Regions from separate parts of the Homo sapiens genome. Here regions 1 and 2 are each linked to region 3. Evidence: fine-mapped QTL for protein levels in blood plasma. A gene starts in region 3. Each other region holds a variant in brackets. All regions are shown on one strand. Distances are from middle to middle. Region 1 overlaps C9 (complement C9). Region 2 overlaps C9 (complement C9). Region 3 holds the start of C9 (complement C9).

What was found. PIP is the chance, under the fine-mapping model, that this variant and not a neighbour inherited with it causes the effect. The UK Biobank Pharma Proteomics Project read protein levels with antibody pairs (Olink). The fine-mapping took linkage between variants from a reference panel, not from the people measured, so its PIPs are less certain.
Region 1: its variant is fine-mapped to the plasma level of the C9 protein (UK Biobank, PIP 0.98).
Region 2: its variant is fine-mapped to the plasma level of the C9 protein (UK Biobank, PIP above 0.99). The variant lies in the coding sequence of C9. If it changes the protein, the assay may bind it differently, which can mimic a change of level.

The regions. Positions count from the first base shown.
Region 1 is chr5:39,322,918-39,330,917 of GRCh38, forward strand. All of the region lies in intron 5 of C9 (complement C9), which reads right to left. Among named protein-coding and RNA genes, the nearest start is that of C9, 38 kb to the right of the region's middle. The variant G/T (reference allele first, on the strand shown) is at 4,869.
Region 2 is chr5:39,284,485-39,292,720 of GRCh38, forward strand. C9 (complement C9) reads right to left here. Exons shown (of 11, transcript NM_001737.5): 10 at 4,239-4,467; 11 at 1-749. The coding sequence ends at 715. Among named protein-coding and RNA genes, the nearest start is that of FYB1, 69 kb to the left of the region's middle. The variant A/G (reference allele first, on the strand shown) is at 4,457.
Region 3 is chr5:39,361,456-39,369,733 of GRCh38, forward strand. C9 (complement C9) reads right to left here and starts at 3,040. Exons shown (of 11, transcript NM_001737.5): 1 at 2,933-3,040. The coding sequence starts at 3,009.

The sequences.
Region 1 (8,000 bases), 39 kb before region 3:
AGCATCTAAGGATTTAGCTATTTGTGAGTGGTCCTGGGACCAATTCCTCATAGATACTGAGGGACAGCTGTACAACTGATACCACAGAAATATAAATAAACATAAGATATTACTGTGAAAAATTATGCACAAAGAAATTGAATAACCTGGAAGAGATGGATACATTCCTAGAAACATACAATCTATCAAGACTGAATTATGAAGAAATAGAAAATGCAGACCAATAATGATTAAAAAGATTGAATCAGTACTACAAAAAGTCTCCCATGAAAGAAAAGCCCAGAATCTGAAGGCATCAGTGATGAAGTCTACCAGATATTTAAAGAAGAACTAATCCTAGACTTTCTTAAAATATTCCAAAGAATTGAAGAAGAGGGAATATTTCCAAATTCATTTTATAAGACCAGCATTACCCTGATATCAAAGCCAGACAAGAACACTGCAAGAAAAGAAAATTACAAGCCAATATCCCTGATGAACATATATGTATATATATCTTCAATAAAATATAAACAAACTAAATTCAGAAATATATTAAAATGATCATACACAATGATCAAGTGAGATTTATATCTAGGATGCAAAGATAGTTTAACATATGCAAATCAATAATTGTGATACACCACATTAATGGAATGAAGGATAAAAATTATATGATCATCTCAATAGATGTAGAAAAAGCAGTCAATAAAATTCAACGTCATTTAAAGATTAGAAAAACTCTCAACAAATTAGGTATAGAAGGAATGTATCTCGACATAATAAAGGCCATATACAACAAGCCCACATTGACCATTATACTCAGTGGTTAAAACTGAAACTTTTTATCAGACGTCAGGAACAAGACAAGGATGCCCATTGTATCTCTGTTCAAAATAGTACTAGAAGTCTTAGAGCAATTATGCAAAAGAAAGAGATAAAAGGCATTTAACTCAGAAAGGAAGAAGTAAAATTGTCTGCAGATGATATTCTTTTATGTAAAAAACCCTAAAGACACCACCCAAAAAACAAAACAAGACAAAAAATGTTAGAACTAACAAATTCAGTAAAGTTGCAGGATACAAAATCAACATGCAAAAGTCTGTTGCATTTCTACTCACTAGCTACAAACCATCTAAAAAAGAAACTTTTAAAAATACCATTTACTACAGAATTAAAAAGAATAAAACACTTAGGAATAAATTTAACCAAGGAGGTGAAAGAGCTGTATGATGAAATTCATAAAACATTGATGAAAGAAATGGAAAATATACAAATCAATGGAAAGATATCCAATATTCATGGATTGGAAGAATTAATATTGTTAAAATAGCAACACTGCCCAATATGATCTGCAGACTCAATGCAATCCCTATCATAATTTTATGTCATTTTCCACAGAAATAAAAAGAACAATCCTAAATTTTGTATGGAACCACAGAAAATCTCGAATGGCCAAAGCAATCTTGAGAAAAAAGAACAATACTGGTGGCACCATGCTTTCTGATAGAGGGGGTGTAATTTGTAGGCACCTGCACTTGTATGTGAAATGACTAGAAAGGAAATGGCATAAGGCAATTATCAACTCAGCAGCGTAGAGGGCCACTTTCAGATATAACAGATTGTTGGTCAGGGTATCAATTAGGATGTTGTTGAATGGCTCAAGAAAAGGTAGCTTTTCTCACTATGCCAGAATGGTAGTGGCGAGTACAGCCTGAAACTCTGAGGATGGAGTCATCCCAGAAAGCATAGGAATGAAAGCTGAATTGGGAAATGGAAAAATCCATCCATGCGAAAAGAAGTCTAGGCTCAATGTTAAGCATTCAGAAATAGACCAATACTTGTAACCATCATAGAGAGAAAAGCAAAAGTCTTGGACGAGAGACCAAGGGGCAAGATTACAGAAAGCAGAAAAACACAAAGATGGAAGCAAGTTTCTTTATGAGTACTGAATAAACAGATGTTGGAGAAGCTAGATTCAGAGAGAGAAGATCAAGGGGCTTGCATGTTCTAGGAGGCCAGACATATTATAAGGGTCAGTTGAAGTTATCCTGTTTAAGAATTTGTTCATATAATACTCCTTGAAAAGAAATAAACATTGCTTATGGCACTAAAAATGGAAGAGATAGACACGATCAAGAAATATTTCAGAGTTCAAGTTGTGGAGGTTTGGAGAGCAGTTGTAAATAGAGAGTAAGTAGAGAAAACTGTTGAAGATGTCATTAAAATTTTATTTGTACAAATGGATAATAAAACCATAAACCACATATTAGTTATTATTATCAAAGCCATCTCTCACTAATTGAGAGAAGAAACCTATGAACAACAGATTCATTGTAACCTTTTGAGGCACCCCTCTGCCAGAACCATCTAGCCAAGCTACTGTCACATTCTTAACCCTTTAGCCATTAAGTTTTGGGGTAATATGACAGTAAAGGATAACAAGTACAATCCATCTCTATTATCTATAGAATATTTTTTCTGTGCCTAAATCTTAAACGTTTGTGTGCTCTAGGACTTCAGTCTCTATGTTCTTCTCTTCTCCCTCATTGTACACTTCTTTGGTAATCTCAGGCACCCTCAAGAATGCAATGATCGCCAGGCGCGGTTGCTCACGCCTGTAATCCTAGCACTTTGGGAGGCCGAGGCAGGCGGATCATGATGTCAGGAGTTAGAGACCAGCCTGACCAACATGGTGAAATCCCATCTCTACTAAAATACAAAAATTAGCTGAGCACGGTGGCGCACGCCTCAAATCCCAGCTACTCAGGAGGCTGAGGCAGGAGAATCGTTTAAACCCTGGAGGCAGTGATTGCAGTGAGCTGAGATTGCGCCACTGCACTCCAGCCTGGGCAACAGAGCGAGACTCCATCTCAAAAAAAAAAAAAAAAAAAGATGCAATGATCATGTGTATGTTAATTAACACCTAGATCTCTTTTTACAATTTAGATCATTCTCTCCATTTTGATTCAAATAATCTCCTTGTTGTAGGATAACTCCATCTAATTTCATATAGACCCTCAAACTCAAAATTACCAGCATTCGAATCATTATCTTCTTAGAACCCACTCCTTCTTTGGTAGATTTCCTGCACATCCAACTTCCCACATCTCTTTTGATGGCCTATAATTCACTGGTTGTTTGTGTGGGGTTTTTTTTCTTTCCATTTTTATAGGGTCCATCTATAGAAAATTTAGTTTGTGATAGGCACTATTCTAATCACTTCACAGTTATTAACACATTTAATCTTTCTGAAACCCTGTGAAGTGTATACTATTATCATATGATTTTATCATGGAAATTGAGATCCAGGAAATGTAACTAAGTTGCCTAAATTCACATAGGTGGTAAGTGGAGGAAGTTACCAAAATTTAAACCCAGAGAATCTTAATTCAGAACCTTGTGATTGATCATATGCTATACTGTCTCCAATTTATTAATAATTTCTTAATTCTTAAATATGCTGGATTTTATCTCTTCTTCTTCATCTCTACTATTACAGACCCAGATTAGCCTTTTGTCATCTGCTTCTTGGACCATAAAATAGCCTCCTTCTGTTCTCATTACCTCTGGTCTTGTTCCCTTAAAATTTATTTCCACAAAACACAAAGTTCTAAAATGAAACTCTCAGGGTTTTGCTCTCCGGAGTGGCTCCCTCATTATGCTCAGGACTATGCTCAGTGTATTTATTATGGCACATGAGTGCCTTCATGATTTAACCCCTGCCTATGACTTCAACCCTGAATGCATGAGTTTATTTGTAGAACAGAGTCCCTTTCAAGATAGCAGTTTCTATAGGGAAAGACTACATATTTTCCACTTGAGAAACATCAACATAGGACAAATAACCAGGTATGTAATAAGCTTTATCTGCTGCTAGATTTTCTAAATGGGCTTAAGTTGTCAGTAGAAAGAATAGTTGGAATGTGTATTAAGCCTCTGCTTGCAATTTTGCTGTCAACTTTAATGGCAATTCCAATTAAATATTTGTTTTTTGCCATCATTAGAAATATTAACTTACAGTGTTAATATGCTGGCATGAATTTTTTATTCATTCAATAGGCATTTATCTAGCATAGTATACAATATAGTTTTTCAGTATTCTGTGGTAAATAAAAGGGTGAGATAGCAACCAAAAAGCACGTATTATACAGCAAAATATATACCAAATAGAGAAAAAATCAAAGCATATTGCATTTATTTGTAGGAGAAGCATTTTAGAAGATGGAGGATTCAGAGGAGAAAGCTGAGGGTGGAGTGGCAATCAAAAATCAGATCAGGGATCACTTTGTACTCCTTGCCAAGGAGATTGACTACTACACTGCAGGCTATAGATAGACACTCACCAAATTTAAGCTTCAAGGAGAATGATCAGATTTATTATTTTTACACTGAAATGTGGGGAATGAATTGAAGTTGAGAAAAGCTAGAGGCTGTAAACTAAGAACACTATTTTGAGTCATTCCTACATGAGAAGTGATGGGAGCTTAAGGCAGTGGCAGTGGGAATGGGGAATAAGAAACAGATTTAAAGGAGATTATAATAATAGAACTTGAAGATTGATTGGATATTGTGGGTTTTGAGGGAAATGAGTCTGTAAAGAATGTCTTAAGGAGGGATTTCAGGTTTTGAGTTTGATGACTAGGTTGATATTATTTCCACTTACCAAGACAGAGAATTCAAGAGCAAGAAGCAGGAAATTGGGAGTAAGATTGGTTATCAGCTGTAGGTATGTTGACTCTGTGACAATGGCAGACAACTGGATATACAAGCATCTAGTTCAGAGAGAGATGTGGGCTGGAAATATAGGATTTGCATGCAATCAGAATAGAGTGAAAACTGAAGCCATAGGAGAAGAGGAAAAGGAAATCACTTAAGAAGAATATATA[G/T]AGAGAAATCAGTGAAGCAATGTAGGAACTCTGGAAAGAGTTCAATACTATTTAAGGATTCTCCAAAAGGGAGCTCAAAATAAGCTTGAGATAGACTTGAAGAGGGTTGAAAAATGCATAGACACAAGATAACAGAGAGTGGGGAATAAATGCAATGCACATATGTTGAGATAGCAAGTGTAGACAACATGGGTATATAGAGATGGCAGAGGTTTCTTCATTTGTTTCTTTATAGATGAGACCCTTGAAAAAGATTTATATATGAAGGCCAGAGTGGAAGGAAAAAGAGGGAAAGGTTGAGTGGAGGCTTAGCAGAATGTCTAGCAATGTACTTGGAGTGGGATCCAGGCTAGGGAAGAGAAAGAATAACTTCCTACTGAGAGAATAGGATGTAAAGAGGGACTGAGTAGCAAAGTAAGTACACAGAATAACTTTGAAGAAACAACTGTGAAAGCTCCTGCCTATGACTTGGGTATTCTCTGTCAAGTTGGAGCTAATGTCATCTGCTGAACCCAGGATCAAAATGGTGAGTAAGAGTAAGAGGCTTGAGGGTGTTGCTGAAAGATTGAGCCTGCTCATGTGAAGAACGAGAATGAGGAAAGCCTGAGAAGGTGTTACAGACCTACTGAACAATGTGGAGGACTCAGTTGAAATTATAATGCTAGCTGTTTTTGTGTGAGCATAATATTCTCTTTAGTGTTCAGCAGTGTAAGTTTACAAGTAGGGCAGAAAACAATAAGGTTCATGCCAAATCAGAGTTTTTCTGGATTGTAGGAGGAATGGAAACAAGGACATTGCTAATATTGGCAAATGTAGTCAAAATGGATCTAGCTTGGATGAACAAAATAATTTAAAGTAGGAAGAGCAAGATATACCAGGAGAAAAAAAGATTCCAAAAAGACTGAAGGTCTAGATGAGGCCAAGAAGAGGTTTGTGGGCATAAATGAGGGTGAGAGCTGAGAGGTTAGACAACTGTGATAAGATGAGAGGGTTAAAAGTTGGATTTTCAAATTTCAGAGACAGCAAAGTTCTGGTAAAGACAAAGCCAAGGGTTAGGTGGCTAGAAATGAGAGTGGCTGTAGTGAAATGGTATAGGAAGTTATGAGGCAACAAGAAATACTTGGCAGTCCACATGATATTGAAGTCACCCAGGATTTTGGCAGGATTGGGGCGAAAACTATGCTTATAATCTGTGTGCATTTTGCAAATTTTTGTTCATCTCCCAAATCTTACATTTTCATGGAGACTCAGATTTAAGAAGAATTATAATGAACACCTGAAACCTGATTTAGGCTTACAAATTGTTATTCAACAACAAAAGTGAAGAAACAACCAAAGAAAAGTAAGTAGAAAAGGACCTAAGTTATAAACGCAATCATCACTCCCCCCTCCCCTTTTTACTTCTACAGTTGTTCTTGGTCATTACTGCTAATTTATAAAGTGGTCAGTAAGTCTTGACCTGCTGTGTGACCACTAATTATGTACCTAGCTTTGGCTAAGTCTTTAACTAATTATACTCTAAAATGAATAATAGCTAATATTTACTGAGGGCTTGCTATATGCCAGTGACTTTCTGAGTGTTTCACATATTTAGACCCATTTATCTCCATGAGGTAGGCATTATTATTTCTATTTTATAGATAAAGAAACTGAGGCACAATGATGATAAGTAATTTGCCTGAGATTTTACAGCACTAAGGGGCAGAGGTGGGATTTCAACCTAAGCAGAGTGGCTCTAGAACCACAGCCCATTAGAGACAAAAGACCCTAAATGAGAGAGTATGAATGGATGAGAATAAGATGTCATTATTTAGGTGCATTCCCATGTTATGATGGACCAGTATAATTCTGTCAAAAATGAAAGCCAATAAATTATTGCCAATAAGTAACTAAGGCAAGAGTTAAAAAATTATTTCATCCAACAAAAACTGGTGAGGATTATATGGAGTTGGTATTGGTAATAAGCTATAAAGAAGTATAATATGTATAATTTGCCTTCAGGTACTACTGATACACATGAGAAAGTAAATGACATATTTCATTAAGTAGTAGGAATTAAAGAAAAAAATCATCTCTAAGGAGTTAAAGTAGATATTTCCCCTCATGTAAGTTTGTGTTCTTTTATGTATAATAATAATGAGTTTGGCTACTTATTTTCCAAGACCATAACAGATTTGAATAAGGGGATTATCAGCAGTGGGAGCAGCAACGGAGTGATGTGGAGGCCTTAGCCAACCCCTATTCAACTCCCACTGCCCCAGTTGGCATCAAATAAATATTCAAGTCCACAATTCCTATCTTCTTTCTAATAAGCTTGACATCAAACTCTTTTGGGGGTATTAATCTCACCTGAACTAGTAAAAGGTATCTATAGTCTTCATTTTTCCCACCATATATGAACATAGATTAGTTTTGCTACAGAAATATTGATGTGTTAGATTATGTGATGCTGCTCCAAACTCCATTGTGATTTATATCACACCACATCACCTTTCTAAAATACCAAACATTCTGAAATGCTGAAACACATGTGTTTCCAGGGTTATGGATAAGGGAAAGCAGTGCTTCCTTTCCAAACGTGGCTTCAAGATCAGTCCTGGGCAGCCCCTAGCCGTCACTATTCTATGTCGTACAAGTTATTACCCCTCTGGAGAAGCTAAGAGCTGATCACAGTGGTGAAGACAGGAAAACCGTAAAATGCAGACTAAACTCCAAACAAACTAAATCAACACAACAATAGCCCTTCTCCCATCAGCAATGACCAAGGTGACCATGTTTGGTATTTTCTATTTAAGAAAGGAGAATGTATGTAATACTTTTTAAAAATAATTGTCATCTTTCCATCACAAAAATCTGTGCTTAAAGAAGTTTAACCTGGCATTATTGGGGAAAACCAACAGCCCAAAAGATTTCCTCAGATTTTTTGGCAACTGACATATTCTGACTTATAGGTATAAGAAACATGACTACATGTGAAAAAAAACATGCCAGTCAAATGGTCAAGATATGACAGTCTTTAGCATTCATGAGAAAACATGATTGCTTCTGGCTGCAATATGTAGAGACTGATTTATGATATTTTCAGAAAGTAATGCTTATTTAAAAGCATACACATTTTTCAAACTGGTGGGA
Region 2 (8,236 bases), 77 kb before region 3:
CATAATTTAAACTAATAGTTTATGTTCATTCTATTCTGCTACTGAACACTATCTATATTATTCCTTTCATCTAACTGGATTTTTGTACCCATTAACCAACTCCTCTTTATCTCCCTTCAGTCCTCTGGTAAACTAGTAGTTTTTGGTTACAAATATAATATGTTTTCCCCCTTGGACACATGGATTTAAATCGTAGAGCTAAGACTAGTAAAAGCAACTGCTGTGCACGTGGCTGGTGCTCAGCATTTGCTGAATGAATGTATGCACACCTAAGCAAATAACCAAACTAAACATAACAATGTAAATAAGAGTTAAATTGCATGGTACAGACGTGTGGTCATGGACCTGGCAGAATATGTTAACCATACAAAGCCGTTTGAAAATTACTTTGAAGTTTTTTAAACCAACATTCTGTTTTTAATTTAATTTTGTTTTTTTTTAGAAGAGATTGGCATTTTCCGTGGGATAAAGCAGTTCTGGCGTATTTCACTGTTGACTTCTCATTAGGGAACAAAAAATGGAAACATCACAGGAGTTTAAGGAAGAAAAATTTAAAAAAAAATTATAGACCTAAGAGAGAAGAGACTTCAGAGGTTGGTAGGATTTTCATGAAGCATGTTGCTATTTACTTGGCAGCTAAGATTATCTTCAGGGGTAGGATCTGAAGGTACTAGTGTTTTCTTCTTCCACTGGAGCTCAGAGAAGCCAACAGCTCTATTTTTCATTGGGGAACTCTAGGGCTGGCAATCCTAGAGAAAACAAATAAGTATCAAATCTTAATCATCAATAGGATTTTACTTTGGGTCCATCCACCCATCCGCTTTTTCACCTTCTTATCCTCTTGCACCACGTTGTGCCATACTGTCTAGGTACTGGGAATAGAATGTGGTGTAAGGTACAAGGCACATTTTCATACCAGAAAGGGCTATTTGTCTTGTATACAGAGAGTCAATGTGATTAGTGCTGGAAAAACAGAGGGAAAGTTCTCAGGCAGCATAGATAGAGAACTGATTCCTGGAGAAATTGGAGAAGGTTTCATCAAAGATATGCTAATTGGACTGGGTTCAAAATAGAGGTTTTTAACCCTGGCTAAAGATTAGAATAACCAGTAGATTTTTTAAAAATTCAAAAAACAAAAAACCCATGCCCAGGCAGGATCTACCATGGCTGCTTTTGTTTAATTGGCTTAGGATAGACATCTGTTTTGTTTTGTTTCTTTTTTTTTTTTTCCTTTAAGGAAGTGAGCCAGATGAATCCAATGACCAACCTGGTTGAGAGCCATTGGTCTAGGAGTAGAAACGCACACAAGGAATAAGGGAGAAGGAGGTTCGGTTAGTTGAGGGAGAGAAAGTTGGAAGCATTTCAAGCTAAGTAAATGGTATAGAAAAAGAAAGATGATGTGTTACGGTTTTCAATCTCATCATGGGTGTAAGCTAGTGTAAATTGGAAACTAGAACATTCTATGTCAACATGGATGCTTGGAAGATCTACCTTGAGGGAAAAATTCAACAAGAAAATGTCTAATGTCTCAGCAAGAAGCTGTGGGCCATCCTGGGTCAGGTTTGAAAGGTCAACCAAACAATGCCTAGTGATCAAAGATAATTTTATATTGGGGAAGGGACCTTGATATTCATTATCTATGAAACACAACATATGGAACCCGAACCAAGAACTTTACATAAAAATCTAGTGCAAGACTGATGAAAATGATAGGACCTCCTAAGAAACAAACTAACCCTAAGAATATGTTCATTATCCAGGGAAGACGGGTTTCCACAGGAAATAATTCCCACCAAAAACTAAGCCTGTAATAAAAAATCACTAAGTACTGAAGAAAGCATAATATGCCATGAGAATGAATTGGTAGACTTAGCAGAGAATTGCACTGCAGAAACAATATATACTGGAACAATTTGAAAGAATTCCGTGAAGATATATTTAACATGTTGAAAGCTATAAAGGTAGGAAAATAATCCAGTAGACTAGACAACAGAAAAAACTAGACAAAAGAAAATTGAAAAAGAACCAAATCAAAATTTTAGAAAAATACTTTTAAAATAATCTCAATAGGTCAGCAAATGGATCGACTATACAAAGTTGAATAAAATAATTGGAAAATTAAAAGCTAGAACTAAAGAAATCACAGAGAAATCAGCAGAATATTCTACATAGAGAGAAATAGGTAGAAAATAGACGTTCCAAGTACCAAGTAGTATACATTTTTGGAGAGTGAGAGTTTTTTTTGGAACGCAAAGCACTAGATTGAGACTTTAGACCGATGAGAGACAGAGTTAGCATACATTTATAAATCAATCATTCTAAAATTTAAATTAAATTCTAACTTACATATTTTGTCACCACATGATTGAGTTTCTAAGCCATTTGCTGAGAAGTGTAAAAAATTCATAAAATATTAAAAATTTATATTGTAAGAGATGAAAATATGGTTGAATGATAAACGAGGCTGTGAACTTTGGCTACATAATTGTTTTAGAATTTTGTTTCAGGAAACTGTATTTGTTCAAACAATGATTGCCATAGAAAGTTAATCTTAATAGCTAATCTTGTGATATTAACACTTGGACTAAGATCTCACTAATCTATTAGGAGTCTGAATAATTCTACCAGAATGAAATACTAAGCATAAACTCTTAGGATTAGAAACATGACTAAAGTCATGTTTACTTGTAGGAAGTAAAATAGTTTAATTGAGTCCTATTTGTCTATTTTTGTTTTTATTGCATTTGCTTTTGAGGTTTTAGTTATAAATTATTTGTCTAGGCCAATGTCCAGGAGAGTTTTTCCTAGATTTTCCTCTAGGATTTTTATAGTTTCAGATCTTACATGTAAGTCTTTAATCTATCTCAAGTTAATTTTTGTATATGGTAAGAGAATAGAGATGATTTCTCAAAAAATTAAAAATAGGACTACCACTCAACAGTCCCACTACTGGGTATCTACCGAGAGGAAAATAATCTTTATATGAAAAAGATGCCTGCACACATATGTTTACTGCAGCACATATTTTGATGTGCAATAGCACATATTTACAATACATATTTACAATAGCAAAGTCATGGAATCAACTTTCATGTCCATCAATGGATGATTGGATAAAGAAAATGTGGTACATATGTACCATAGAATATTATTCAACCATGAAAGAGAATGAAATCATGTCTTTTGGAGCAACATGGTTGGAGCTGGAGGTCATTATCCTAAGTGAAATAACCCAGAAATAGAAAATCAAATACCACATGTTCTCGCTTATAAGTGGGAGCTGAACAATGGGTATGTATGGACATAAAGAAGGAAATAATAGACAGTGGGGACTCCAAAAATGGCGAGGATGGGAGGGGGATGAGGGTTGAAAAATTACCTGTTGGGTACAATGTTCACTATTTGGGTGATGCGTACACCAGAGGCCCAAAGCTTATCATTATGCAATATATCCTTGTAACAAACCTTCACATGTACCCTTTAAATTCATAATAAAAATATTTTTAATGTAAAATAATGTTTCCTTATGATTAACTTAAAAATACAATACAGAATCTCAGCTTTCAAAAACACAAATACAGTTAAAAATGCAAAATAAAAATCTAGTGAATATCATTTATATAAAATTTAAAAACATACAAAACAATATCACATATTTTTCATTGGTACATACATATTTAGTACAAGCACAAAAATATGAACTGGAAAGATACATACCAACTTAATGAAAGTGACTGTATCTGAGTAGTAGAAGAGAGAAAAGGCAATAGAATTTTTTTGGGGGGCGGGGATGTGGTACAAAGTAATTAATTGGATGTATTATTGTTGCTTCTTAAAAAAGGGTTTTAAAGTATATATGTCTACGTCTATACACATAAACACATATATATGCAAAGTGTATATGATATATATGTATTAACATTCATCAATTCTATATAGTGAATACCTGATGTTTGTTGTATTTCTGTAAACCTTCTATAAGAATATTTTTATAAAGAGTAATACAATAATTATAATTTATTTATTTATAATTCTATCTTAATATATACAAGTAGAATATGTCAGAATGACACATAAAGGCTGATTTACCCATTTTCACTATTCACTCAATCTTTATCTTCTGTTTATATAAATAATCTAGAGATTTAGTACAAATTAATTCAAGAGCTAGTTTTCAAATTAGATAACCCCAAAGTGCATATTTTTGTCTTTAATCACATCAAATAAATTGTCCTCACCTTCAGAAATTTTTTGTTTACTGATTTCACAGGCAATTCCCTCAAATTTGAATGGGCAGGCACACAAACACTTTCCATCCATTAGAATCACTGTACCTCCATTTTGGCATGTGTGGCATTTTCTTACACTAAATTCATTGATATAGTCTTCAATGGCTCTTTCCAAGTTTTGTTTCTTTAGGTGTGCATTTTTCATTTTCACTGGAACCAGATTATAT[A/G]TAGGAGACAGCTGAAAGGAAGCAAAACATTTAATTTTAGGTCCTTTTTAACTGAGAGAACTTGTAGAATACACTTTACTTAATTATTCATTCACTGATTCATTAATTCAACAAAGACTTATTGAATGTATAGTATTGCCAGATGTGATGTTAGCTTTTAAACAATCAAAACTAGTCAAGATGACTGCTATCAGGGAGGTCATATTACGGAGTTAAGGAGGCTGATATTAATAAAATAATGATGCATAAATTTCAAATAGAAAGTGTGATAGGTGCTACAAAAAAAAAACAGGTATATGTGCTTTAAAAATGAACAACTGAGGGACTTAAACTTCTGGCTTGATAATTTATTGACATATTTTGTGAATTGTTTTTGCTGCCTTCTTCCTTCTCTTCCAGAAGGTAACCAGATGCTTGCTATCTCTTGCCTAAGAGGAGGTTTGTGTGCAAGGCCAAGTCCAGAATGCCCCTGAAGGCAACCTTTTTCTAATTTCTTTCTTGTTTTTTTTTTCCTCTAAAAGTCTAAATTCATTGAGAAATTTTTGTAGAGGGAAGGAATATAGAAGAATGCCACCAAGGAAAGAGATTCCTCCAGAATAGAAAGGGGATAGAAGTTAGTATATACCTCAAGTAACAGGAAACCATAGCTAGATATTTAGCAGCTATTTTGGGAGATAGAAGGACCTATGGGGTGCCTTGAGGAAGCTGCATATGAAGTATCAGGAATCCAGTCTTGTCAGTGATTTCCATTTGCAAGCCTGGCATGGAGGGCTTGGAAATATTTGACTTCTAGTGAACATGTGAGCCTGAACAATAAGGTTATTGAGGTAACTACGATGAACTAAAGGCATATGTAAATTATATCTCCATTTCCCAGATGGAAGTGTTAGGATTCTTATACCAATTTAGACAGCAGGGAAAAAATTTCCTGAGCCCCATCCAACAAGTAAATGAAAGGTGAATTTTCTAGCAACATGGAGGGACATGATCTCAAAATCACATTTAATTAGATGTAAAGAAAATGAAGTAAAAGTATTTATTTGGCACACTCAAATTCCTGCAGTAAGATACACAGTTGCTACACTGAAATCAAGGAAGTTTGGAAAGCTTTGACAATAAATACTGAGCTGAGATTTGAAGGTGTCAAGGCAGAGAGAAGACTATTTCAGGCATACAGTAAAGAATTTTGAAAGTTTTTAAATGGAGGAGGAAGTTGGGAAGATGTTGTTCCAAAGATACAAAATTGTAGTTAGATAGAAGGGGTAAGTTCAGAAGATCTATTGTGCAGCTTGATGATCATAGAAAAAAATTAAAAAGTTCTTATAATGGAGATATCATAACATATACAGGGAAATTTATATGTTCACTTAATTTAAGCAAATTCAATTGTGTAACTAGCAAGAGCTGTTTGAGTGAATAAACTGTTAGAAATAGAGGCACTTTGGTGGCAGAGCACTTTAAAACAAGAGACCACAAAACTTAAAAGAAATGAGAATCTATAGAGCCCAGAGCTAAAACAAACAAACAAACAAACAAACAAAAACAAAAAACAAACCAAAAAAACCCCACAAATTCCTGCAGAAGAATAATGATGGATTAAATAATGTGGACTCATCTTTTCCCTAAGGACAATGAGGAAAGCTAAACAAAATAAAACCAAACATTTTTTTTTAAAACTGCTAAAATGCCCTGGACAACTAATAAGAAAATAAAAAATCACTGATCTAAGATCTGGGAGGAGGTGGAAATCCAAGAGGTGGGCCCAGTATTCTAGGGCTACTAGTCCTCTTGACACATTTCCTAATTCAGCAAGAGTTAGTAGAGAGACTAGGAGGTAGAGCAACACATTACTGAGCTGAGGAAAAAACACTGGAATTCAGATCAACCAAGGTAGACATGCTATCCTTTGATTTGGGGACTAAGAGGGAAGTGGAAGTAGGATAGCTCTGGCAGAAACTGCAGCCCAGTTTGGATTAAAATAATCTTGGATCATTAGTGGGGATGCTGGAAGCTTTTCAAATATAAATATATATGTTTGAAATATACAAAATTACCCCAGGCATCAGGCTACTCCTATAATAATTTTACGTACAGTATTTAGCCCACAGTAAAAATAACTAGGCACACAAGGAAATAACACAACATGAATGAGACCAGTGGAAATTATGGAAAATAGAAACAGCTATGGTGGCTGCCAATGTTTGTGCTATCAGACTTCAAACAATTATCAGACTTTAAACCAACTGTTTGCATAAACAGGGAGATAAGAGACAAGTCTGAAAATTTTAGCAAAGAACTGGAAGTTATTAAAAATAGATTTGAAAAAAAGAAACAAATATTAGAATACAAATTAGTGAATTAGTTAAATAGCAAATGTGATAAAACTGAAGCAATTTAATGAATTGCAATATAGGTAAGAAGAAAATATTGACAATAAAGCATGAAGAGACAAAAGGATAGGATATACAGAAAGAGGGAAGGAAACATAAGTGATAGTGTGGGAAGGGAAAAGATCCATATATTTTGAGCCCCAGAAGGAGAACAAAGGACAGAATAAATAAGAAGCAATATTTGAAAAACTAATGACTGAGAATATTCCAGACCTGGTGAAAAACAACAAGATATCTTATGAATAAAAACTACGGTGAAAAATAATTTTGCAGCTAGGTATTATCAGAGAAAAATTGCTAAAAAAACAAAACCCAAAGACAATGGAGAAAATCTTAAAAACAGTTTAGTAAAAAGCCTTAGTATTTTGAAAGTAGACTAAATTTGACTTTACTAGATACAATCAATAATATTATAAAGAGTCAAATGGAAATGTAAAAAATAAAAAGCATGATAAAAGAGATGAAAAATATCTTTGATGAGTTTGTCAGTAGATTTGACACAGCAAAAGAAAGAATCAGTAAACTTGATAAAAGGGTGGTAGAAATTAGCCAAATTAAAGTGCAAAGAGATAAAAGAATTGAAGGGAGGGAACCCAGAACTAAGCATCCAAGAGTGTGGGGCAATATGAAAGAGACTAGCACATGTGTTACTGGAATCCTTGAAAAAAGTGAAGAGGTTATAAGAAGGGGTTGAGAGGGGGAGAGAAAGAGAATGTGATTGTGGCAGAAGAAATATTTGAAGATATAATGACCAAGAATTTTTCAAAAGTAATTAAATAATCAAACCATAGACTCCAGAAATTTAGGGAACTTCAAGCAGAATAAATATACATCTCATTCAAACTGTGGAAAACCAAAGATTAAAATGAAATCTTCAAGGCGATGACAACAAAGGGAAATGCTACAAGCAGAAGGTCAAAGATAAGAGTTACAGCATACTGCTTATTTAAAAACTATGCAAGCCAGAAGACAAAGGGGTAATATCTTTAAGTACTGAAAGACAAAAACAAAACAAAACAAAAAAAAATCCACACAAACTGTAAACATAGAATTTTATACCTAATGAAATGTCATTGAAAAAAATACTTTTTTTTTCAGAGAAGAAAAAGCCAAGAGAGTTTGATACTAGCTAATGCACACTAAAAGAAATGCCAAAGGAAATTTTTCAGGCAGAAGAATTACCACAAAGAACTAAAATTTGGACCTACATAAAGTAATCATGAGCTCTGAGCATAACTAAAATGAAGGCAAAAATATACCTTTCTAGTTTTAATTGCTCTAACATATATTATCTACAGCAAATGTTGTCGCATTGTAGTATGAGTTTATAGTGTATGTAAAAATTTAAAAATATGTATGTAAAATATACATACACTATAAACTCATGATA
Region 3 (8,278 bases):
AAGGTAATGATAGCTACACTCACAGAGCACTTCCTGTTTGCCTGGCACTGTGCTAAGCATGTTGTCTTTGTTATCTCAGGTATTCCTCACAGCAGGACACATTATTATTCCCATTTAGCAGGTGAGGTACAGGTTTAGAGAAGTTAAGGAATTTACTTAAGGCGCAGAGCCAGTAAATTGTGGAGCTGGGATCGAACCCAGGCCACCTGGCTCCAGAAGCAACGCTCTGAGCTACTATTCTACTCTCATGGTGGTTTTAAACATTGATGCTCTACCTTGAGAAACATAAGAGATGATGTCCCCCTCATGGCCAGTTCTCATGGGCACATTAATCTTTGTAAAAAAATAAAAGAAAAAAGAAAAAAACAATAGTTAGAAATCCCTGACAGTTCTCCAGTAATAATAGGTCACTGTAGCTGTGGCATGAGATGTCTTCAAGCCATGGGAGAGCCCTGAAGGCTAGCTGTAATTCCAACCCTTCCGTCCTAAACAAGAAAGATAGCAAAGTGAAAGCACAGGAAGGTTATTATTTTTTTTAAATACCTGGCATTTATTAAGTTCTTACCATGCGCCAGGCACAGATGTCATAAGGACATTACATGTATACCTGTTTAATGTTCACAACGAAAACCTTATTAGACAGATGCTATCATTACCATTGTGATGAGTTGAATTGTGCCTGCCCGCCAACCCTGAAAGGTATGTTGAAGTCCTAACCCCAGATAATTATTTGGTCCTAAGTGTCAAATAAGACTGGGACCTTATTTGGAAATAGGGTCTTTACAGAGGTAATCAAGTTAAAATGACATCGTTAGGGTGGGCCCTAATCCAATATGACTGGTGTCCTTTTAAAAAGGGGACATTTTTATAAAGACATACACAATGGGAAGATGATGTGAAGATGGCCATGTGATGATAGACACATAGACTGAAATGATCTGAAACCAAAAAATAAAATACAAGGGAGTGCTGGCCACCACCAGAAACTAGGAGGGACCCTTCCCAGAGTATCGGAGGGAGCACGGCCCTGCCAACACCTTGATTTCAGACTTCTAACCTCCAGAACTGTGAGACAATACATTTCTTTTGTTTGAAGCCATCCAGCTTGTGGTGCTTTGTTATGGTAGTCCCAGGACATAAATAAAACCACATCTTACAGACGAGGGAAGCGAGGTACAGAGAGGCCAAGCAACCCGCCCAAAATGACACTGTTGGTAAGTAAAGGCACCTTGACCTGAGCCTGGGAAGTCTAGCTTCAGAGGATTTTAAAAGTTATTTTGCAAATTTCAGTTAGCTATTATTCAAACAAATCGTCTCACTTCATGACTGAGGGCTCTGAACACTCTGTTTTGACCTCAACCCCCGTCAAAGGGCAAAGCACAGAGCATTCAGAGCAGGGCAACCGGGGCAAACTCAAGAGGGCATAGCAATGGGAGCCCACGAAACCAAACCAAACTCAGCCGTGCAGCTGCTGGAGCTGGGGTCCAGCTAATGGGGCTTTCCGGTCCTCCCTGAAACAGCTGAGTGTGGCCAGGACCCAGGGGGTACGCACTTCAAAGCAATCAAAGCTTCCCCACAGCCTCTCATTTTTGATCAGCAGGAGCTGCAATCTAGGAATGTGGGTTGTTTGAATTATTATTATTATTTTTTAGCTTAAGAAAGGGTCAGGTGAAGTTCAAGGGAGCTAAAGCAACTTGGAGGAACTGCCTTTCCAAATCCCTTTTGTGCCCAGATGCCCACTAAACAAAAATATTTCCTGAATGGTACAATGCTTTACAGATAATATGGAAAGAGGAGGGATGAAGGAAAGGTCTGGTCGAGCACTGGATCCAGGGCCCATGTTCATCTGTGTAGCACCTCTGGGTGCCCCCTCCTGAAAGATACAGCCCTGTGAATAACCCACTTGTTGAGTGGAGCCCAGGCTGAATGGCGGCCTCCAACTGCAGCCAAGAGGCAGGCAAATATGTACTGGAGACGGGCATCAAAGTTCAAAACAGCATTTGGGTAAACCAAGAGTCAAATGACTAATGAGGAATTGGAAGCAGGTTATGGTTATGTCTGAGCAGAGGAACAGGGCTTGGGCAGACATTTCCCCCCAGCCACACTGTTGAAGTGAGGAATATTTCAGTACTCTCCCCAGAACGGATCATCCTGTATTGAATTATACAGGTCGATGTCTACTCTGATGACTCCAGGATGGAAGGAAGGATGCCTCATGTGACCCTAACCTCCACCATTTCTAGGTACAGTGTAGCTGTTCAATAAAAACTTATTATATGGGTGATTTGTTTCCTGGATGACTTGCCATGGGCTTTGCAATTCCGATTAGGATCAGAGAAAAAGGAGAAAAAGTATCTTTGGTAGAAGCATGAGTGACAGGTCTGCATCACTGCAATTCTGGAATGGAAGAAATATGACCTAAATCCCAAATGGCCCTAAACAAAATGCATGCCTCTGAACACAACTCAGGATGTCAAGGGAAAGAAACAAAATAGTTAACCTTTGCCTAATGTGGAGGCAAAAGGGTGATGTATCCAAATGTTAAAGGTGTCAGGCATTGAAGCAGAGTGAGGGAAAGATTAATTTCCTTAATTTTAAACTTCTCAGACATCAGGCACTAATAAACCCAGGTTCATCATACACTGGTGAAAACAAGCTTTATTTTATAATTCCAGATATTTAAAGAATACCTCAATCTTAACATTTGAGTGCCTTGTTGAAAATAAATCCCCAGAAACAGCAGCACATTTCCACAGAAAACTCATAAAGATGCACCCTATGTATTTTCTTATCTCTTTTCGAAGTTTAGATTCTAGGGCTCTGTATATTGCCATGTGGATTAACATTGTCATGTACTTTGCTGCTAAGAAGACCTTGAGATGCTAATCCTACAGGAAACTTCCAGAGACAAGCAGAAAAGTAACTGACTCACCTGGTCGTGTACTGTGCTGTGAGGATGCTTATTTCTAAAATGCAGATTGCAACTGCAAAGCTCCGGCAGGCTGACATGCTGCTCTTGCTGGGTGGCTGCGAGTGGGGTGGCAGGGCAGGTCTGGTAAGGCATTTATTTGCAAAGGGCCAGAGGACAGGGAACAAGCATTGTTTGTCTGCATTCAGAGTTTTTGTCAATTTGGGTGGCCTGGGTACTGAAGTCCAACCAAAGGAGAATCATTTTGTAATTCTTGGCCTCCTGCTTTCTCATATTGACAAGTAGATATGGGGCAATGGGCCTGTGAATGCTAAAGTCCCTAAGATGGGCAGCAGTGCTGTGTGAAAATGGAAACAAAGGCCGGGCGCAGTGGCTCACGCCTGTAATCACAGCATGTTGGGAGGCTGAGGTGGGTGGATTACCTGACGTCAGGAGTTCGAGACCAGCCTGGCCAACATGGTGAAACCCCATCTCTACTAAAAATACAAAAAATTAGCCAGGCATGGTGGTGGGTGCCTGTAATCCCAGCTACTTTGGAGGCTGAGGCAGGAGAATTGCTTGAATCTGGGAGGCGGAGGTTGCGGTGAGCCGAGGTGGGGCCACTGAACTCCAGCCTGGGCAACAAGAGCAAAATTCCGGCAAAACAAAACAAAAACAAAAACAAAAACAAAAAAATAGAAACAAAAATGAAGGACCCCCAGCAGTTCTTAGTTTGCAAGACTCGAGGGGTTGGGTGGAAGATGAGGGAGTATGCAATTTTGGGGAAAAAAAAGCCTGTGGATGCTTCTCATGGAGGCATGAAGTCAAAGTTAGTAAAGAACTGCACTTAGTGGAAAGGATGGCACAGACGTAGATGCTTCATTTTTTTTTTAATCTGCAAATGGGCTAGGTAGGTTATTTCCACGTGAGCAAATGCATTTACAATCCTGGCTTTCCTTATAGGCCGAGTGGTACATTTTGAAGAATGAGATGTAAACTCCCGAAGGCATTAAGGGCGTCCACCAGAAAGAGTGGTCTCCTTATCTCAGCATCACACATGTCAACAAGATAGAATCTGAGACAGAAAAACTTGTTCCTACCCATGAAAAATAGTCTCCCCCTCACATTTCATGCTTCCCAGCACTTGTGGGAAGAGCAGTGCCTTTTTGGGAACACCAGAGAATGTGGACATCACAACTGCTCTTAAAGCACTGACTGCAAAAATAGAATGACCTGGGGACTCTTGAGAACAGTAGTGATGGCTGCCCGCTGTCTGCTCAGCTCTAAGTTAATTGACTTGTGATGAGACCCTGCATCCATGCTTTTAAAAGCTTTGCGGATCATTCTAACGTGTAGCCAGGGTTGAGACTGAGGATGACCACCTTGAGAAGAAAGACATCAGATATCTCTGGATATAGTTCTTAAAGGGACTTTATAAGTATTATTATTACTTATAGGCAAATTTCAAACATTAGCACATATAAAGACCAGCAAAGCAAGGGGTGGAGCTGAGGGAAGACAGAATATACAGCTATTTTCTCCAGTACTGCCTTACCTTTTCTACTGATATTCCTACCTGTGGTAAAAGGTATCTACTCTCACCCACTTTCTTGGCCCCTCTCCTTTTTATGCAGAGAACTTGAGGTCTTCAATGGGACTGATCTCACCTTTTCCTGAGCTTGCTGTGGAGTGTAGGCCATGCAGAACTGCCAAGTAATAAGATGATTCGAATGGATGCCACAACTCGTGTAACTATGTCATGGGATGAGTCCATGCCTGAAAGACACTTCCTGTGAGTCTTGGCTAATAACAGGTGGGCTACATTTGGAAACAGTATGAATCTGTCAAATATGCTGTAGCAGGGCAGGTGCAGTGGCGCACGCCTATAATCCCAGCACTTTGGGAGGCAGAGGTGGGTGGATCACTTGAGGCCAGGAGTTTGAGACCAGCCTGGCCAACATGGTGAAACTTCATCTCTACTAAAAATACAAAAATTAGGTGGGTGGGGTGGTGTGTGCCTGTAATCCCAGCTACTTGGGAGGCTGAAACATGAAAATTGCTTGATCCTGGGAGGCAAAGTTTGCAGTAAGCCAAGATGGCACCACTGCACTCCAGCCTGGACAACAGAGTGAGACTCTGTCTCACAAAAAGAAAAATGCTGTAGCAATGTTGAGGGCTCTTATGAGGCCTCTCTGGACCCTATCAAGATACTTATGGAAATAAAGACTGAAAAGCAGTCAGGATGGGATGCTTTATACTAACTAGATTTGATGCTAATTGATTAGAAGTTGTGATGATTAGACTTGATAAGTTGATGTGACTGGAGATTGTACATCACCTGTCTCTTTGGAGACTAAATCAATGGAAGGGGGATGAGGGAGTGAGGGGATATTTTTGGCTGACTAGTTTGAATAGGAGGCTTTTCTGAATTGCTCAGTTGTATTTATTTTATCACCATAGTTCAGGTTAAATATAATGTAGAAAAATAATGACAGCAGTAAAGTATACTAATAGCATATTAATTATATATTGGCAATATATATTGTATTAGTCCATTTTCACACTGCTACAAAGATACTACCTGGCTGGCACGGTGGCTCACCCCTGTAATCCCAGCCCTTTGGGAGGCCCAGGAGGGCAGATCACCTGAGGTCAGGTGTTCAAGACCAGCCTGGCCAACATGGTGAAACCCCATCTCTATAAAAATACAAAAAAATTAGCCAGGCATGGTGGCGGGTGACTCTAATCCCAGCTGCTTGGGAGGCTGAGGCAAGAGAATTGCTTGAATCTAGAGTCGGAGGTTGCAGTGAGCCGTGATTGCACCACTGTACTCTAGCCCAGGCGATAGAGTGGAACTCCGTCTCAAAAAAAAAAAAAAAGATACCACCTGAGACTGGGTAATTTACAAACAAAAGTGGTTGAATTGACTCATAGTTCTGCATGGCTAGGGATGCCTCAGGAAACTTATAATCATGGTGGAAGGTGAAAGGAAAGCAAGGCACTTCGTAAATGGCATTAGGAGAGAGCAAGAGTGAGGAAGTGCCACACTTTAAAACCATTAGCTGGCTGGGCGTGGTGGCTCACGCCTGTAATCCCAGCACTTTGGGAGGCCGAGGCTGGCGAATCATCTGAGGTCAGGAGTTCGAGACCAGCCTGGCCAACATGGTGAAACCCCCCATCTCTACTAAAAATACAAAAATTAGCTGGGCGTGGTGGCAGGCGCCTGTAATCTCAGCTACTTGGGAGGCTGAGACAGGAGAATTGCTTGAACCCAGGAGGCAGAGGTTGCAGTGAGCTGAGATCGCTCTGTCCCACTCCAGCCTGGGGGACAAGAGCGAGATTTTGTTTCAAAAACAAACAAACAAACCATTAGCTCTCATAATTCACTCACTATCACAAGAACAGTACAGGGGAAACCGTCCCCATGATCCCATCACCTCCTAGCACGTCCCTCCCTCAACATGTGGGGATTACAATTCGAGATGAGATTTGAGTGAGGACACAGAGCCAAATTATATTATATATTACATATTATAATTATATAATTATAATATATGTAATTATATATTACATATAATGCATAATTATAATATAAAATCATAAATATTATATAAATATATAAAATATATGAATAATATGCTCCACATTTTTATGCTTTTAACTCTTTCTTGTCCTTAACATCTATCATGTGTCTGAGGTGTTTTGAAATGAGGCTTATGTTTCTGTGTGTATGTCAGAGAAATAAAGCATCATCATGCATTAGACTAGAGCAGTGAAAATAGTAACATTTTCATTTGTATAACACTTAAAGGCTTCCAAATAACAAAATAAATGTTTATTGAACTTCTAATATGTGTCAGGCCATATTTATATATGCAATCTCATTTAATCCTGAAAATAATCTGTTTTACAGCTGAGGAAATGGAGACACATTGAGATTACATCATTTGTCCAGCGTCAGCCAGGGACGAGTAACTGCACATTTGTACTTGCTATGTCTGGCTCCACATCTCAGGCTTTTCCTACCTTGCTATTACTACTATTGTTATTATTTTAAGTACGTCATGTTGCTTATAGGGTACTTTACTATAAAATTCGTTACTGAGTCCTGTCAACTCCATAGAAGGTAAGCTTTTATTCTAGTCTCACAGATGAGGCTCAGAGAAATACCTGCAAGGCTACACAGAAGAGGCAGGGGTGAGATTTGAACAAACCATGTCTTTAAACTCTGATTCCAGGGTTTTCCACTCTGCTGAGGGTTTTCGCCATTCAGTTGCCCTTTGTTCCCTTCTTAGTTTCAATTTTCTTGGGAACTTTGTGATAGTGAACTAAGTTTTTTGCTTAATAATACTTTTCCCAGTTTTTAAGGCAAACATAGACATATGTACATTAAAACTTTGACCAGCAGGCAGAAACACTTAATTTTTACTGATTTGATATAAATATGTTGAGGGTCATTTCCATTTGACTCTTTTATAGTGAAGGAAACAGTTTCTTGAAAGTCCCTTAGCAGTAAGTTAAGGGATCTTAGTATCCAGGGATCTCATTAGGAATGCCTGCCCCATTCCATAGCTGTTTCTTACTGACTGTCCAAAGATCCACAGGTCTTGCAATGCCACAGTGAAATTTTAGAGCTTCCACTAAGGAGGCAGCATCAGACACACCCGAGAAGCATCCTCTACTCAATTCCAGCCCAGTCATGTTACCCTGTAACTTTTAGAGCAGCAATGATTCTGCTTTCTTGTAAGTAAGATAAAATAATGGTTGAAATCAACCAAGTGAATAAAGAATTGACAGAAAACTCCACAACCAATATCACAAGGAAAAATTAGTCATAAAGAATTTCAGAGTTGGGTTTTTTTTTCCCTTCCATTTTTAACAACCTCATCTTTCATCTCTGCAGAAGGCCAGCTTCTTTGCCACTGAGCAGCCCACACCATGGTCTTGCTGGAGACAAGCACTTGTATGATTTCAGTATGTGGTAGAGGTTTAGTAATTAAATGCAGGACACAATTCCAAGCAAGGGCAAATGAGGGGCTTGGCCACTCATCAGGTGAGATGACAAATGGCTGGCCCTTGTCCATCAGCGTTGCTGTAATTACAACATGTTAACAGAGCTGCTGCCAGTACATAGCCTTGTATATGTCCCTAGGCTGATATTGTACATATCAGCCTAGAACATGAGTTTTTATTTTTAGCAGAAGGGAATTAGTTCAAAACATACCATTTCCCAGCAATAATTATTTGTTTTATTGTTTAGCAACCTCCTCAAATCGTAATAGCTTAAATATTTACCAGGGGCTTTGGGGCAGCTCCCATCTTTTCCCAGATTTTGTATTAAACGTATTCCGGGAATATGGGTCAGAGTCC